Regions from separate parts of the Homo sapiens genome. Here region 1 is linked to region 2. A link means that fine-mapping ties the variant in region 2 to the expression of a gene that starts in the linked region. Tissue or cell type: sun-exposed skin. Region 2 holds a variant in brackets; the other region holds the start of a gene. All regions are shown on one strand. Distances are from middle to middle.

Evidence for each region. PIP is the estimated chance that this variant, and not a neighbour inherited with it, causes the effect.
Region 1: it holds the start of MYL9, and the variant in region 2 is fine-mapped to the expression of MYL9 in sun-exposed skin (GTEx, PIP 0.92).

The regions. Positions count from the first base shown.
Region 1 is chr20:36,538,218-36,546,309 of GRCh38, reverse strand. It overlaps MYL9 (myosin light chain 9), which reads right to left and starts at 4,791. Exons shown (of 4, transcript NM_006097.5): 1 at 4,749-4,791; 2 at 1,242-1,451. The coding sequence starts at 1,425. The region is part of intron 2 of DLGAP4-AS1 (DLGAP4 antisense RNA 1); the gene reads left to right. RefSeq lists enhancers at 1,375-2,028, 2,029-2,682, 2,683-3,336, 3,337-3,990 and a silencer at 4,771-4,970.
Region 2 is chr20:36,612,827-36,620,926 of GRCh38, reverse strand. It overlaps SLA2 (Src like adaptor 2), which reads left to right. Exons shown (of 8, transcript NM_032214.4): 6 at 5,553-5,702; 7 at 6,490-6,622; 8 at 6,941-8,100. The coding sequence ends at 7,061. It also overlaps the pseudogene HNRNPA3P2. Among named protein-coding and RNA genes, the nearest start is that of RAB5IF, 11 kb to the right of the region's middle. The variant G/A (reference allele first, on the strand shown) is at 4,404.

The DNA.
Region 1 (8,092 bases), 75 kb after region 2:
TGTCTGGTCTGGATGCTGTCACTCGGCATGAGGGGTACGCGGGAACTGGGCTGAGAGTGGCTGGCTGTGGCCAGCACTTTGGGAGGGATGTTGGGGCAGGCCCGTGGGTTGGGGCATGGTCTGTGGAGGCCTTGCCTCTGGGCCTGTGTTTCCCCATCTGCAGTAGAGAATTGGACTTGATTTTTGTACCCTGTTAGTTCTAAGGTCCTGATCCTGAGGAAGTCACTGGGACCAGAGAGGCTATGAGAGCCTGAGATGGGTGACCTCTGAAGGAGGGGAGCTGGTCTGGCCGCCCCTCTAGGCCTCAGTTTCCCCATCTGTGCAGTGGGCAGCCTGCAGTTCACACTTTCATTTAGATGCTGACCTCTTTCTTTCCTTTCTTTCTGTTTTGAGACGGAGTCTTGCTCTGTCGCCCAGGCTGGAGTGCAGTGGCGTGATCTTGGCTCACTGCAAACTCCGCCTCCCAGGTTCACACCATTCTCCTGCCTCAGCCTCCCGAGTAGCTGGCGCCCGCCACCACGCCCAGCTAATTTTTGTATTTTTAGTAGAGACGGGGTTTCACCATGTTAGCCAGGATGATCTCGATCTTCTGACCTCGTGATCCGCCCGCCTTGGCCTCCCAAAATGCTGGGATTACAGGCGTGAGCCACAGCGCCTGGCCAGCTGACCCCTTTCTTTAAATGAAATGATACCTGGCAGCCCAGTGCACAAATCTGCCTAAGACAGGCCCACTGTGGAGTCAGCCTGTCTACGTTCAGACCCTGTGGTGGACCTGCTTTGTGCTTCAGTTTCCCTGTTTTTTTTTTTTTTTTTGAGATGGAGTCTCGCTCTGTTGCCCAGGCTGGAGTGCAGTGGGGCGATCTCGGCTCACTGCAACCTCCGCTTTCCGGGTTCACGCCATTCTCCTGCCTCAGCCTCCCAAGTAGCTGGGACTACAGGCGCCCGCCACCACGCTCGGCTAATTTTTGGTATTTTTAGTAGAGTCAGGGTTTCACCGTGTTAGCCAGGATGGTCTCGATCTCCTGACCTATTGATCCGCCCGCCTTGGCCTCCCAAAGTGCTGGGATTACAGGCGTGAGCCACCGCGCCCGGCCCAGTTTCCCTGTTGAATGGACTAAGTTAATGGCAACTATTCTCTAAGGTGGACACCACGCGTCTCACTACACAGGAGGTGCCCTGTAAATGATTGGCAGAGCCTGCCTGGCCTCATCCATCTCACCCCTGTCCCTGTCCCAGCTCACCCAGCGAGGCCAGCATGTCGTGCAGGTCCTCCTTGTCAATGAAGCCATCACGGTTCTGGTCAATCATGTTGAAAGCCTCCTTAAACTCCTGGATCTGGGACTGGTCAAACATTGCGAAGACATTGGATGTGGCCCGCTGTGGCCGCTTCTTGGTGGTCTTGGCTTTGGCCCGCTTGCTGGACATCTTGGCTTCTGGTGGGTGGGGCTTCCCTGCAGGAAGGGGTGGGGGTTGGGTGGCCCTGTGACTCTGGGCCAGGGAATCTTCCTGCCTCCCCCAGACTGGCTTTTAGCACTTCGGCCTGGCATTCAAGGCTGCCCACGGATTTGGGGCTCCCACCACCCAGTTCTTCACAAAAGCAGACAAGTGTGGCTGTGTGATTCTGAACAACTTCCTCTACCTCTCTGAGCCCGAGAGTCTTCATCTGGGACTGGAGACATGAGGAGTGCCCAGCAGTAGGGATTAACTGACTCAGTGCCCGAGAGCTCCTGGAACAGTGCCGGGCATGGAATCAGCTATTTTGGCTGTGACTGTTTGGGTAAAACACTTAGGATTGGGCTTGGTGCCAACCATTACCATGCTTTATCTCCTTTAATCCTTAATAGCATTTACACTGTCCCTCTCTCTTTCCAAGTGACAAGGTGGGTCCACTCGTGGGAGTCAGTGAGGGCTCTCCTGGGCTGCCATCCAGGCTCCCTGGCCCTGCAGGAAGGAGCTGGATCAGCATTCCTGCATTCCTGCCGTTCCTCACTCTCCCACTCCATCCCTCTGCTGCCCGCCTGAGGTTCTAGGAGGCTCTGGGCAGTCAAACCCCCGCCTGTCCACCTCAGGGAGCTTGACCAGCCCCCCAGTGGTGAGTGGTCACAGACTGATCCTGGGTCCCACTCCTTGTTCTCACTCCCCACTGCTTATCGGGGTGTGAGGCTTGCTTGGGCTGAGAACCCCAGCTTCTTCACCCTTGCTTAGACCTGGCTTCTTAGCCTCCAGCCGGCCTCTTCTGTCCCATACAGACCCTGACCTACACCTATCATTGTGAAGCCCTTGAAGGTTCCTGCCGCCCCTCAGAGCAAGTCTGGGTCCCTCATCCTGGCATTCAAGGCCCTGTGTGAGTCCCTCCTGGCCTCTCTGACAGCCCTCGTGGTGTCCCTCTTGTGACCCACAATCCTACCCTTCTGACCTCTGCAGTTCCCTGGACACTCCCAGGCTTTCCTCTGTGGTCCCCTCCTCCCCTGTGCTCTTTCTTCTCCAGCCCAGTTCTTGAGACCGCCCCCCTCTCCTAGGGAGCTGTTCCCTGTACCCTTGCTTCCACAGTAAACACTTAAAGATCTCTCTCCCTTGTGGGCCAGCATAGATCCCCCAGTTTACACCAATCCCAGGCCATAGTTGGGCTAACAGATGCTTGTTTGATGAATGACTATATGAAGGCAACTACGGCCAGTCTGCTGCTTCTACTGTACAGATGGGGAAACTGAGACCAGGCCTGGGACTGTTTCCCTGAATGCTTGCCACAGCTTGTGGGGATATGCGCCTGAAGACCCAGTGCCTCCTTCCCTCGGCTGGGGCAGTGGGCCTGGCTGAGGTTCCAGGACTGCGGCCCCTCTTCCCTCTGCCCAAACCCCCGGGCCCAGGGCCTCCAGGAAGCCTCCTCTGCCTGTTGTTCACCCCAAGCTGTGTGGTTGCAACTTGAGCTGTTTCCAGGCCTTCCTCCCATGACTCTGTTGAAGTCATTCTCGGTCCTTGGCCTTTGAGATCATCAACCCTGGACTGGGATCCCGGCCAGCCCCAGCTGGTCCCCAGGGCCATCACTGCCTGTAGTCATGAGACAGTGGTTGCCCGTGTCCCACGGACCGACACACCCAGCCCTCAGTGTTTCTTGCATGGTTCAGGAAGGTAGACAGAATTCCTTCTCACCCATGACCTAGTTGGGAGTGCCATTGTCCCCAGATGCCGGCCCCCTCCTCTCCCGTGCTTTAGAGGGGCCTAGTCCTTCCCTGAGTCCAGTGTTCTCGGGAACTTTGACTCCTGGTGCCCACAGAAGGCTGCATGCAGAGAGGCAGTGCACTGTGCCCAACAGAGGCTGTGATGGCCATCACTGTCCCCACCACACTCTATGAAGCTCTAGGGCAGGCATGGCCAGGCCACCCACAGCTGGGTCTGAGCCCAGCTGGGCCCCTCTGCCTTCATGGCCACCCGGTCTGCACTCTCTGCTGTGGTGTGGCTGGGAGCACTGTACTTAAGGGCTTGCACAAGGCCGCCATGTCCACCCCAGCAATTGTGGGAAGTGGTGAGCGGAGGCAGGGGTGCCCCCATGGTGCAGCTAGGAAAAGAGGCCCCAGAAGGGGAGTGGAGTGCCCATGAGAGGGGGAGGGGCCACCTGGAAGACAGGATTCCTGGGCTAGGTTTGGGTCAGTGGAGAGCAAACTTGGCTGCTGGTGCCCTCGAGGCTTGAACAAAACAGGGAGCCCCAGTCCTCAGGCGGGCCTGTGGCAGTGGAGTGGGAAAGGGCTCTGTGTATCCAGAGGCGCCTTCTAGAACTGGTGGAGGGGCGAGGGGCAGGCATGGGTGGGGCCTTTAGTTCTGAGGCCATCGCTTCCCCCTTCAGGTGCCCTAGACACCAGGGGTCAGCACTGATACTTGGCCTGGATGTGACTGGATGCCATGTCCCCCATCCTGGTGTCCAGATTCCCACCATAACAGAAAAGGCTGGGCTGAAGCCAGCACAGGGCAGTGCCCCCATGACCTCCAGCCCCTGGAGCTGGGCAGGCCAGATGCCTCCTTCTCAGTGCACCTCATCTGAGTCTCCTCCTTAGAGCAGCTGGAGGGCTGGGAAGAGCAGGGATCAGGTTCTCCCAGCCACTAGTCCTCGTCCTGCCCCCTAGGGGTGAGTCCATCAGGGCCCTCCGCAGACCTTCCCCACCCACAGGCGAGATGACCCAGAGAGGGGAAGGCCCGGGTCCCTGCATACAGCACTGGCTGTGTCGGAAGGGCCCCCTGGTCTCGGTCCCTTTCCCCTGGCCCAGGGTGTAGGGATGGGAGATGGGGAGGGGACACAGATGCTGTGGGGGCGTGGAGTCCCACAGGGCTGTTTCTCCATCTGTGACACACATGCCTTTACTGGGCCAGGGGGAACTGACGACTGCAACCCTCTCCCCAGCACCCTTGTACCCGGGCTCCCCAGCCCCCCCCGGAGCTCTGGGCTTGGCATCTCCAGCTCCTCAGCAAAGGGGCAGGGCCTGGACGATGGCCTTCCCTTGCCGCAGGACCACTGCTTCTCAGAGGCCAGAACAGCCTTCCTGCTGCCCGGCCCCTGGCCAGAGTCCCTGTCGGCCCCCAGCAAACTCGCTGCCCCAGCTCACCCCTCAGTCCGTGCCCAACAGACCCTACCACGTCCCAGTCCGTGGGGCCCGCCTTTGCCCCCCGTGACAGCCGGGTCGGGCCCGGGCCACCTCTCATCTCCAGCCCTGGGCCGTTAGGCCTGTCCTCAAGACCCCCGGGGCCCCGGATCCCACCTGGTGCGGAGAAGGCGCTTGGGCTCGCTGGGTGCGTGGAACTGGGCCGGCCGTCGGGTCTGGACTCCAGGCGGGGGCGGGGCGTGGCGGCCGGGCCTTACAAGGCAGAAGAATGTGCGCGGGGCGGGGCCGCGGGCGGGGTGCGGGGGCCCTCGGCTGCCGTCCGGCCTTATTTGGCCTCGACCCACGGGCTGGCAGGCGGGGGCGCTCTGGGGTGAGCCCCCCTTCCTTGCTGTGCCAGCCCGGGCTGCACAGAGGGCCTTGTAGGGAGGGGAGGTGATGGGGTGAGCAGGCAATGGGAGAGGGGGTGTGGGGGTTCGCTCTGGGCCACCCCTTCCCCTCCAGAGAGGCAAACGGAATGTCCAGGGCCGCTTCCCCAGAGGCCTCCCACTTGTATGGGCCGTGGGAGTGCAGCTTCCCCTGACGGGCAACGGCTCTCGACGTGGGGAGGGCAGAGGCGGTGGGTGGGGGGGCTCCCAGGGACCCCTACGCCCGGTGACTCGCTCTGTCCACATCAGCGGTCGCCCGCCAGAGCGGGGTTGAAGGAACCACTCGGGAAGCACTGGTTTCGTGGAGGGAAACACGATGAACAAGTAGCTCCGCGGCCTGGGGCCTCAAAGGAGAAGGGGACCTGGGGGGAGCGTGGGCTGTTCCGCAGGGTGCTCTGGGCAGTGACATTGGGCAGACAGGAGGTGCAGGGGTGCGCCCCGCCGTGAGGGCTCCCGGGCTTGGGGTCGCCGGCAGCAGGAGGTCAGGAGGATGGGGGCGGGAGCCGGAGGGGCTGAGAAGCAGCAGGGACCCCTCTGTGGCTCCCTGTAGGCCATGTGGGGTGTCGGAGGGTTCCGAGCAGGGGGTGACGACCTGGCTTGGGTTTTGACGGAATCCTTCTGGGTGATGTGTTGAAAATAGCGCAGAGGGGGCCGAGTCCACGAGCAGGGGACCTGTGAGGAGCGACCCAGCAAGGATCAGGCTGATCCGGACTAGCGGGGAGGCCGAGGGACAAGTGCTAAAACTATTTCCGAGGTGCAGCCGGTAGGATCTGCTGGGGCATGGGAATGGGTGTGAAAGAAAAGAGTTAGGGTGGACTCTCAGAGTTTTGATGTGAGCAACGAGAAAGAGCTGCCATTTTCTATGATGGGTTTGCTGTGTGGAGCAGTTTGGGGATAAGAAACTCTATTTTGGACAGATTAATTTTTAAAAACTTTATTTTGAAATGATTTCAGACTTAGGATAAAGTTAGAAGAACTGTGCAAAGAACCCTGTATAGCTTCATCTAGATTCTCCATTTGTTACCATTGGGTTTTATTATATTTTCTTCTTGCTTTCCATATACATATACATATATATAATACATGTACATACATTTATATTTATTTATTCCTACCCCCAACCATTTGAGAGTTTCTTGCATACGTATGTCCTGTTATCTCTACATGTTTCAGTGAGTACCTCCTAAAAAGGAGATTCTCTTAAATATGCATAGTACAATGATAAAAGTCAGGACAATTTTCACATTGATTTAATTACCTAATTTACAGTCCATATTCAGGTTGTGCCAGTTATCCCAATAATGTCCTTTAGAGGAATTTTTTCTGGTCTAGGAGCCAAAGTAAGATCATTTGTCATCACATTTCTTCAGTGTCCCAGTTTTACATTTTATTTTTTGATTGTGGTAAAATATACATAACATAAAATTACCATTTTCAGCGTGTTTTTTTTTTTTTTTTTTTTTTTGAGATGGAGTCTCCCTCTGTCGCCCAGGCTGGAGTGCAGTGGCGCCATCTCAGCTGACTGCAAGCTCCGCCTCCCAGGTTCATGCCATTTTCAGCATTTTTAAGTGTATAGTTTGGTGGCATTAAGTATATTCACTTTGTTTTGCAACCATCACCACCATCCATCTCCAGAGCACTTTCATCTTCCTCAGCCGAAACTCCCTGCCAGTTAAACACTAACTCCACCTTGCCCCCTTCTCCCCGCCCCTGGCAGTCATCATTCATCTTTCTGTTTTCTGTGAGTTTATCTACTTATTGGGGCCTCATGTAAGTGGAATCATATAGCATTCGACCTTTTGTCACTGGCTTATTTCACCCAGCATAATGTCCTCAAGCCCCAGGTTCATCCATGTTTAGTGTATATCAGAATTTCTTTTTGGGGGTGGGGGGTTGAGATAGGGTCTCACTCTGTCGCCGTGGGTGGCATGCAGTGGCACAATTATAGCTCACTGCAGCCTTGACCTCCTGGGCTCAAGCAATCCCCCTGCTTTGACCCCCTCAAGTAGCTAGGGCTGCAAGCATGCACCAGCACACCCGGCTAAGTTTTCTTTTTTTTTTTTGAAACGGAGTCTCGCTCTGTCACCCAGGCTGGAGTCCAGTGGCGCGATCTCGGCTCACTGCAAGCTCTGCCTCCCGGGTTCATGCCATTCTCCTGCCTCAGCCTTCCGAGTAGCTGGGACTACAGGCGCCCGCCACCATGCCCGGCTAATTTTTTTTTTTTGTATGTTTAGTAGAGACGGGGTTTCACCGTGTTAGTCAGGATGGTCTCGATCTCCTGACCTCATTATCTGCCCGCCTCAGCCTCCCAAAGTGCTGGGATTACAGATGTGAGCCACTGCGCCCGGCCCACACCTGGCTAAGTTTTCTACTTTTGTAGAAACAGGGTCTCCCTGTGTTGCCCAGCCTGGTCTCAAACTTCTAGCCTCAAGCAGTCGTCCTGCCTGGACCTCCCAAAGTGCTGGGATTATAGGCCTGAGCCACTGTGCTTGGCCCCGGCTAATTTTTTAAAAAATTCTTTTTGTAGAAGTGGGATTTTGCCATGTTGCCCAGGCTCTCGTCCTTTTTAAGGCTGAATAATATTCCATTGTTTGCATAGTTTGTTTATCTACTCATCATGGATGGACACTTGGGTTGCTTCCACTTTTTGGCTATTCTGAATAATGCTTCAGTGAACATGGGTCTCTTCAAGTTCCTGCTATTGTTTTTTTAACCTGACATTGTGAACATATAAGTCTCTGTTTTCAATTCTTTTGGGTATGTGCCCAGAAATGGAATTGCTGGATCAAATGGTTATTCTATTTTTAACATTCCGAGGAACTGCAATAACTGTTTTCTGTAGTGGCTGTACCATTTTAAATTCCCATCAACAGTGTACAAGGGGCCTGGTGTGGTTGCTCTTGCCTGTAATCCTAGCACTTTGGGAGGCCTAGACAGGTGGATCACTTGATGCCAGGAATTTGAGACAAGCCTGGCCAGCATGGTGAAATCTTGTTCTCTACGAAAAATACAAAAATTAGCCAGGTGTGGTTGTACACGCCTGTAATCCCAACTACTCGGGAGGCTGAGGCAGGA
Region 2 (8,100 bases):
TTATTTAGTAAGGGCCTTTTTCACTTCACCATTATGCCCATTAACAGTGTGGTATTTCTGGCTGGGCGTGGTGGCTCGCACCTGTAATCCCAGCACTTTGGGAGGCCTAGGCGGGTGGATCACGAGGTCAGGAGTTCGAGACCAGCCTGACCAACAAGGTGAAACCCTGTCTCTACTAAAAATGCAAAAATTAGCCAGGCTTGGTGGTGCACACCTGTAATCCCAGCTACTCAGGAGGCTGAGGCAGGAGAATCCCTTGAACCTGGGAAGCGGAGGGTGTAGTAAACCTAGATTTCACCACTGTACTCCAGCCTGGGCAACAGACGGAGACTCTGTCTCAAAAAAAAAAAAAAAAAAAAAAGCCAGTGTGGTATTTCTGAACAATTTTAAAAACTATATCTTGATCATCAAGTTACAAAAGCAAATCCTTTTTTCGACTCTGCTTGTCTTCCATAACTTCTATGGTTTTAATCTTGCCATACTTTTCAGAGGTCTCTCAAATTATATTCTTCTGTATCTTCTTTATTTTATTTATTTTATTTTTTTGAGACAGAGTCAAGCTCTGTTGCCCAGGCTGGAGTACAGTGGCGCAATCTCGGCTCACTGCAACCTCTGCCTCCTCGGTTCAAGTGATTCTTAGCTCCCTGAGTAGCTGGATTACAGGCGCCCACCACCACGCTCAGCTAATTTTTGTATTTTTAGTAGAGATGGGGTTTCACCATGTTAGCCAGGCTGGTCTTGAACTCCTGACCTCGTGATCTGCCCGCCTCGGCCTCCCAAAGTGCTGGGATTACAGGTGTGAGCCATCGCGCCCAGCATTGTTTTTATTTTTTCTTGAGGTGGAATCTCGCTCTGTCGCCCAGGCTGGAGTGCAGTGGCATAATAATTGCCTCTGCCTCCTGGGTTCATGTGATTCTCCTGCCTCAGCCTCCTGAGTAGCTGTGACTATCGGCTCACACCACCACACCTGGTTAATTAAAAAAAAATTTTTTTTTGGCCAGGCACGGTGGCTCACACCTGTAATCCCAGCACTTTGGGAGGCCGAGACAGGTGGATCACAAGGTCAGGAGATCGAGACCATCCTGGCTAACATGGTGAAACCCCGTTTCTACTAAAAATACAAAAAAAAATAGCCACGTGTGGTGACAGGCACCTGTAGTCCCAGCTATTTGGGAGGCTGAGACAGGAGAATGGCGTGAACCCAGGAGGCAGAGCTTGCAGTGAGCCGAGATGGCGCCACTGCACTCCAGCCTGGGTGAGAGAGCGAGACTCTGTCTCAAAAAAAAAAAAAAGAAAAAAATTTGTACAGACATGGGAAGGGGGTCTCTATGTTGACCAGGCTGGTCTTTAATTCTTAGCCTCAAGTGACCCTCCCACTTCAGTCTCTCCAATTTTTTTTTTGACACAGAGTCTTGCTATATTGCCCAGGCTGGAGTGCAGTGGCGTGATCTTGGCTCACTGCAACCTCCTGCTCCCAGGTTCAAGCAATCCTCCTGCCTCAGTCTCCCAAGTAGCTGGGATTACAGGCGTGTGCCACCATGCCTGGCTAATTTTTGTATTTTTAGTAGAGATGGGGTTTCACCATGTTGGCCAGGCTGGTCTTGAACTCCTTACCTCAGGTGATCCACCCACCTTAGCCTCCCAAAGTGCTAGGATTACAGGTGTGAGCCACCGCACCCAGCCTTTTTTTTTTTTTTTTTTTTTTTCCCCCAGAGTCTCACTCCATTGCCCAAGCTGGAGTGCAGTGGCGTGATCTCAGCTTACTGCAACCTCCACCTCACAGGTTCAAGCAATTCTCTTGCTTCAGCCTCCCAAGTAGCTGGAATTACTGGCACCAAGCCTGGCTAATTTTTTTGTATTTTTTGTAGAGATGGAGTTTCACCATGTTAGTCAGACGCATCTCAATCTCTCGACCTCAAATGATCTGCCCACCTCAACCTCCCAAAGTGTTGGGATTACAGGCGTGAGCCACCAAACCTGGCTTCTAGATACTTTTTTTTTTTTTTTTTTTTTTTTTTTTGAGATGGAGTTCACTCTTGTTCCCTAGGCTGTAGTGAAATGGTACAATCTCGGCTCACTGCAATCTCCGCTGCCTGGGTTCAAGCAATTCTCCTGCCTCAGCCTCTCAAGTAGCTGGGATTTATAGGCATGTGCCACCATACCTAGCTAATTTTATATTTTTAGTACAGATGGTCAGGCTGCCTTGTTGGTCAGGCTGGTCTTGAACTCCTGACCTCAGGTGATCCAACAGCCTCTGCCTCCCAAAGTGCTGGGATTACAGGCTTGAGCCACTGCGCCCAGCCTAGATACCTTTTCCTTATTAATTTCTAATTTAATTCCATTGTGGCCAGACAACATATTTTTAATGATTTCAATCCTTTTAAATTTGTTGGCCGGGCACAGTGGCTCACAGCTGTAAACCCAGCACTTTGAGAGGCCAAGGTGGGCAGATCACAAGGTCAGGAGTTCAAGACCAACCTGGCCAACATAGTGAAACCCCATCTCTACTAAAAAAACAAAAAAATAGCCGGGCATGGTGGCACGTGCCTGTAGTCCCAGCTACTTGGGAAGCTGAGGCAGGAGAATCACCTGAACCTGAAAGGCGGAGGTTGTGGTGAGTCAAGATCATGCCACTGCACTCCAGTCTTTTGAATTCTATTGTCTGATATTAATATCCCACTAACATTCTCCCATTAATAAGCCATTCTAGCTTACTTATGGTTGTCTGCATGATATATCTTTTTTCCATCTTTTTACTTTTAGCCTTTTTTTTTTTTTTTGAGACGGAGTCTCGCTCTGTCACCCAGGCTGGAGTGCAGTGGCACGATCTCGCCTCACTGCAACCTCTGCCTCCTGGGTTCACGCCATTCTCCTGCCTCAGCCTCCCGAGTAGCTGGGACTACAGGCGCCCGCCACCACGCCCGGCTAATTTTTTATATTTTTAGTAGAGCCAGGGTTTCACCGTGTTAGCCAGGATGATCTTGATCTCCTGACCTCGTGATCTGCCTGCCTCAGCCTCTCAAAGTGCTGGGATTACAGGCTTGAGCCACTGCGCCTGGACTAATTTTTTTGAGACGGAGTCTCACTCTGTCGCCCGGGCTGTAGTGCAGTGGCTGATCTCGGCTCACTGCAACCTCTGCCTCCTGGGTTCAAGCGAGTCTCCTGCCTCAGCCTCCTGAGTAGCTGGGATTACAGGCGCACGCCACCACGCCTGGCTAATTTTTTGTATTTTCAGTAGAGATGGGGTTTCACTGTGTTAGCCAGGCTGGTCTTGATCTCCTGACCTTGTGATCCGCCTGCCTTGGCCTCCCAAAGTGCTGGGATTATAGGCGTGAGCCACCGCGCCCGGCCCATTAACTTTTGTTTTAATTTTTTTTTTTTTTTTTTTTTTTTGAGACAGGGTCTCACTCTGTCATCCAGACTGGAGTGCAGTGGCACAATCTTGGCTCACCGCAACCTTCACCTCCCGGGCTCAAGCAATCCCCCTGCCTCAGCCTTCAGAGTAGCTGGGACTACAGGCATGAGCCACTCTGCCCAGCCTTGTTTATTTATTTTTTTAATTGAGATGGAGTCTCGCTCTGTTGCCCAGGCTGTAGTGCAGTGGTGTGATCTCGGCTCACTGCAACCTGTCTCCTGCGTTCAAGCAATTCTCCTGCCTCAACCTCCCAAGTAGCTGGGACTACAGGCGCACACCACCACACCTGGCTAATTTTTTTTTTTTTTGTATTTTTAGTAGAGGCAGGGTTTCGCCACATTGGTCAGGCTGTTCTTGAGCTCCTGACCTCAGGTGATCCGCCCACCTCGGCCTCCCAAAGTGCCGGGATTACAGGCGTGAGCCACTGCACCCGTCCCCGGCCTTGGGTTTTTTATTTATTTATTTATAGAGTCTTGCTCTGTTGCCAAGGCTGGACTGCAGTGGCACAATCTCGGCTCACTGCAACCTCTGCCTCCTGGGTTCAAGTGATTCTCCTGCCTTAGCCTTCCAAGTAGCTCGGACTACAGGTGTGCACCACCACACCCAGCTAACTTTGGTATTTTTAGTAGAGATGGGGTTTCACCACGTTGGCCAGGGTGGTCTCGAACTGGGATTACAGGCGTGAGCCACTGCCCCTAGCCTGTTTTAATATTTTAAATGTGCTTATATGGCCAGGCACGGGGTGGTTCACGCCTATAATTCCAAGTACTCAGGAGGCTGAGGCAAGAGGACTGTTTGAGCCCAGGAGCTGTGATCATGCCACTGCACGCCATCTGGGCAACAGAGCGAGAGCATGGCTCTAAAAATAAATTAAAATCTGGCTGGGCGCGGTGGCTCATGCCTGTAATCCCAGCACTTTGGGAGGCTGAGGCAGGCGGATCACGAGGTCAAGAGTTCGAGACCAGCCTGGCAAATATGGTGAAACCCT[G/A]TCTCTACCAAAAATACAAAAAATTAGCCGGGCGTGGTGGTGGCAGGCGCCTGTAGTCCCAGCTACTCGGGAGGCTGAGGCGGGGGAATCACTTCAACCCAGGAGGCGGAGGTTGCAGTGAGCCGAGATTGCACCACTGCACTCCAGCCTGGGCAACAGAGGGAGACTCTGTCTCCAAAAAAAAAAAAAAAGAAAATTAAAATAAAAAAAAAAAATGAAAAAATGAAACATGCAAAGCTGGTGAAACTGTCATTCATCAGTGTATGTAATGTATACATGTAGGTTGAGCAGCACTAATAAAACTGACATCCACGCGCCCACTTGCCAGCTGAAATTACCTAACAAGCCCTTTGTAGCCCCCTCTCATGCTTCACTGTGTTAATCATTCAGTTGCTTTTCTTCAGAGCTTTGCCGTGTGTGCCTGTGCAACATATAATGTCATGTTGGCTATCTTTGAACTTTAAATAGAATCAGGCTGAATGTATGCTCTGTAATGTTTTTCTGCTTAATTTCCAAGATTTCCTTATGCTTATATGTAGCAGTTATTAATTTTTACTGCTGTATAGCACTACACTCTATAATCCACAATTTATTCTACTCTTGAGCACAAACGGGCTGTTTGCCGTTTTTGACTTTTACAAACAATGCCGCTGTGCATATTGCTTGTGTGCTTCTGAGGTATTGTGCCTGGGAAGAACTGCTGGGTTGTAAGGTACGTGCATGTTCAGCTCATCTAGTTAATGCCAAACTGTTTCCAAGGTGGCTCGTACTAATTTCTCTTCCACCAGCAGGGTGGGAGGTCCTACTTCTCCACTTCCTTGCCAGCATCTTCTTGACAGTGTTTTTGCATCCTAACATATCTGCCACCTGAGTCTTTGTAAGAACAGCCAACGCTGAATGTTCACTCACACAGTGCCAGACCCTGTACTGAGGGCTCTGTGTGTGATTTGATTTCACCCTCACAAGACCCCCATCTATTATGAACATATTATTGATGACCAAGAGAGCAAGTCTTTGTCCTGCTTCTGCCCCAGACACTTCCCTTCTGCCGGGGCCCCATGGTCACGTTGCCTATCTTCGTTTCCCAGCCTAGGTGGGGCCGAGTCCCAGCAGGGCCTCAGTGCCACCCCTGGACCCCTTTCTCCTCAGGCTCTTACTCTCTGTCAGTCCGCCTCAGCCGCCCTGCATCCTGGGACCGGATCAGACACTACAGGATCCACTGCCTTGACAATGGCTGGCTGTACATCTCACCGCGCCTCACCTTCCCCTCACTCCAGGCCCTGGTGGACCATTACTCTGGTATGGCCTTTCCCTGCCTCCAGGACTAGGCTGGGATAGTCTGTGGGGAGGAGCAGGCAGTGGTGCCCTTGGATATTTTACCTACTGTGGAGTATTCAGACAGACAGAAGAGCGGCCTCCCCTATTTTCACGCCAGTCCCTATGCCAAGAAATGCAGGCTGGGAGCCCTGTCTTCACCTCGTGCCCTGGCAGAAAAGCCACAGACCTCCTGTGTAGGCTCAGGTCAGTACCTTGCCTACCACTCTGGTTCTGACTCAGAGCCCCTGGCAGCAGGCAGAGTTCTCTCCACAGGAACCGGGCACAGAGCTGCTGCTGTGTGGGATTCAATCCTGACTCTCCTTAGTACTTCCTGGTGCCTGTCCTTCAACAGACACTGGAAGATGCAGTCACTGGGCACAGCGTCAGGGGGCAGAGAGGGAAGAGCACTCTTGTGAAAACTCATTAGGGGTTTTCTGCAGGTCACTCTGTGTGGAAGTAGACAGTGAGTAGAAGTAGACTGAGCATTCCTTAGCTTTCTTCTTCCCAAAGCAATTTCCTAACCAGAAACTTGAGCTCAAGAGGTCCATGAACTCACCCTAAATCATACAGTGACTGTCTCCCAAAAGTTAGCCCAGAAAGACCTTTGACTACATCTGTCTCCATGAAACCAATAGCTTGGGGCTCATGTCCTATCACTCTTTGGTAACCATGCCCCCTCCTGCCAACTGCAGAGGGCTGTCAGGGTGAGGGCTGTTGGGGAGAAGTAGGGTGGAGTCAGTCATGTCAGGGATGGAGGTCTCTTCCTCAGAGCTGGCGGATGACATCTGCTGCCTACTCAAGGAGCCCTGTGTCCTGCAGAGGGCTGGCCCGCTCCCTGGCAAGGATATACCCCTACCTGTGACTGTGCAGAGGACACCACTCAACTGGAAAGAGCTGGACAGGTAAAGTTGGGGACTCCTGGAAACATGAAAGCAGGACCAAGAGTTAGAAGGACCCACCCCTGGGAAGCCACAACCCGGAATGTACCTGTCACACTCAGGGACACCTGGCAGCTGGAGCCAGAGTGCACTGACTCAACTCCTGGAGCACGGCCCAGGCTCGACAGGTGGGGCTGGGGAAGCTGATCTGATAGGGAACAGGGGAGCCCCATGAGGTCCTCAGCAGGAGTGAAGGGTTTTGAGAACAGTGCAATTTTGTGTGTAGTGAGTACAGGGAGGAGGAAGAGGCTTCTTGACCCAATTATCTTCCTTTGTCCACAGCTCCCTCCTGTTTTCTGAAGCTGCCACAGGGGAGGAGTCTCTTCTCAGTGAGGGTCTCCGGGAGTCCCTCAGCTTCTACATCAGCCTGAATGACGAGGCTGTCTCTTTGGATGATGCCTAGGCCCAAAGGAGAGGCCAAAAGGGAAACCAAGGCTGCACACCTAGAACCCCAATTCAGCCTCCTGGGCACCCCAGAGGCAAGGCTGTGCACTCAGGGAGGGAGGGTGGGACACAGAGGTGCATCTAGGGTCCCACCTGTACCCTTGCTCTTTCCTCTCTTAGCCCTTAGAAGTCACCTACTTCCTTCCAGTGCCATGATCCCACCTGCGACCTCTAGTGCGAGTGCAGAGAAGGTGGGACCAGGGCCAGGGTTCCAAAAAGAGAATAAGCCTCCTGGGGGGTCTGACCTAGTTAGTTCTTGAGTTTGGGGTTTCCAGTACCATCTGGATGCCCTGCCTGTTGAGCCCCATTCTACATCCCCACCATTAACCAGGCCCCACCCACAAGGTAGAAACAACCCCTAGAGTCAACGAGAAAGTCATTTTCAGAAAATCTACAAGTCTCGTTGAGACCACCACCATACCTCAGAAGGTAGGACTGTGGCCTAGAAGGGAAAGGAAAGCTGAGATGATGTCTTACCGTAGCAGCAGATCTTGGATGGTCCAGGCTCTATGTGACCTCCAGAGCAAAGAGAAAGACTTCGGACAGTCTAGGTCCTCAAATGTCCCCCATTGAGGACAACAGCCCCAGCTCTTTTTCTTTTTTTTGAGACGGAGTCTTGCCCTGTTGCCCATGCTGGAGTGCAATGGCACGATCTCAGCTCACTGCAACCTCCATCTCCTGGATTCAAACAATTCTCCTGCCTCAGCCTCCAGAATAGCTGGGATTACAGGCGTACACCACCATGCCTGGCTAATTTTTTTGTATTTTTAGTAGACATGGGGTTTCACCACATTGGCCAGGCTGGTGTCGAACTCCTGACCTCAGGTGATCCACCCACCTTGGCCTCCCAAAGTGCTGGGATTACAGGTGTGAGCCACGGCACCCAGCCTAGCTCTCAGATCTCTATTTCATTTTGTGGCTTACCATTCCCTAGCACACTGGCCTTGCCATCTTGTGGCCGAATAAAAAATAACACCTCTTAAGTCTAGCACACTGCA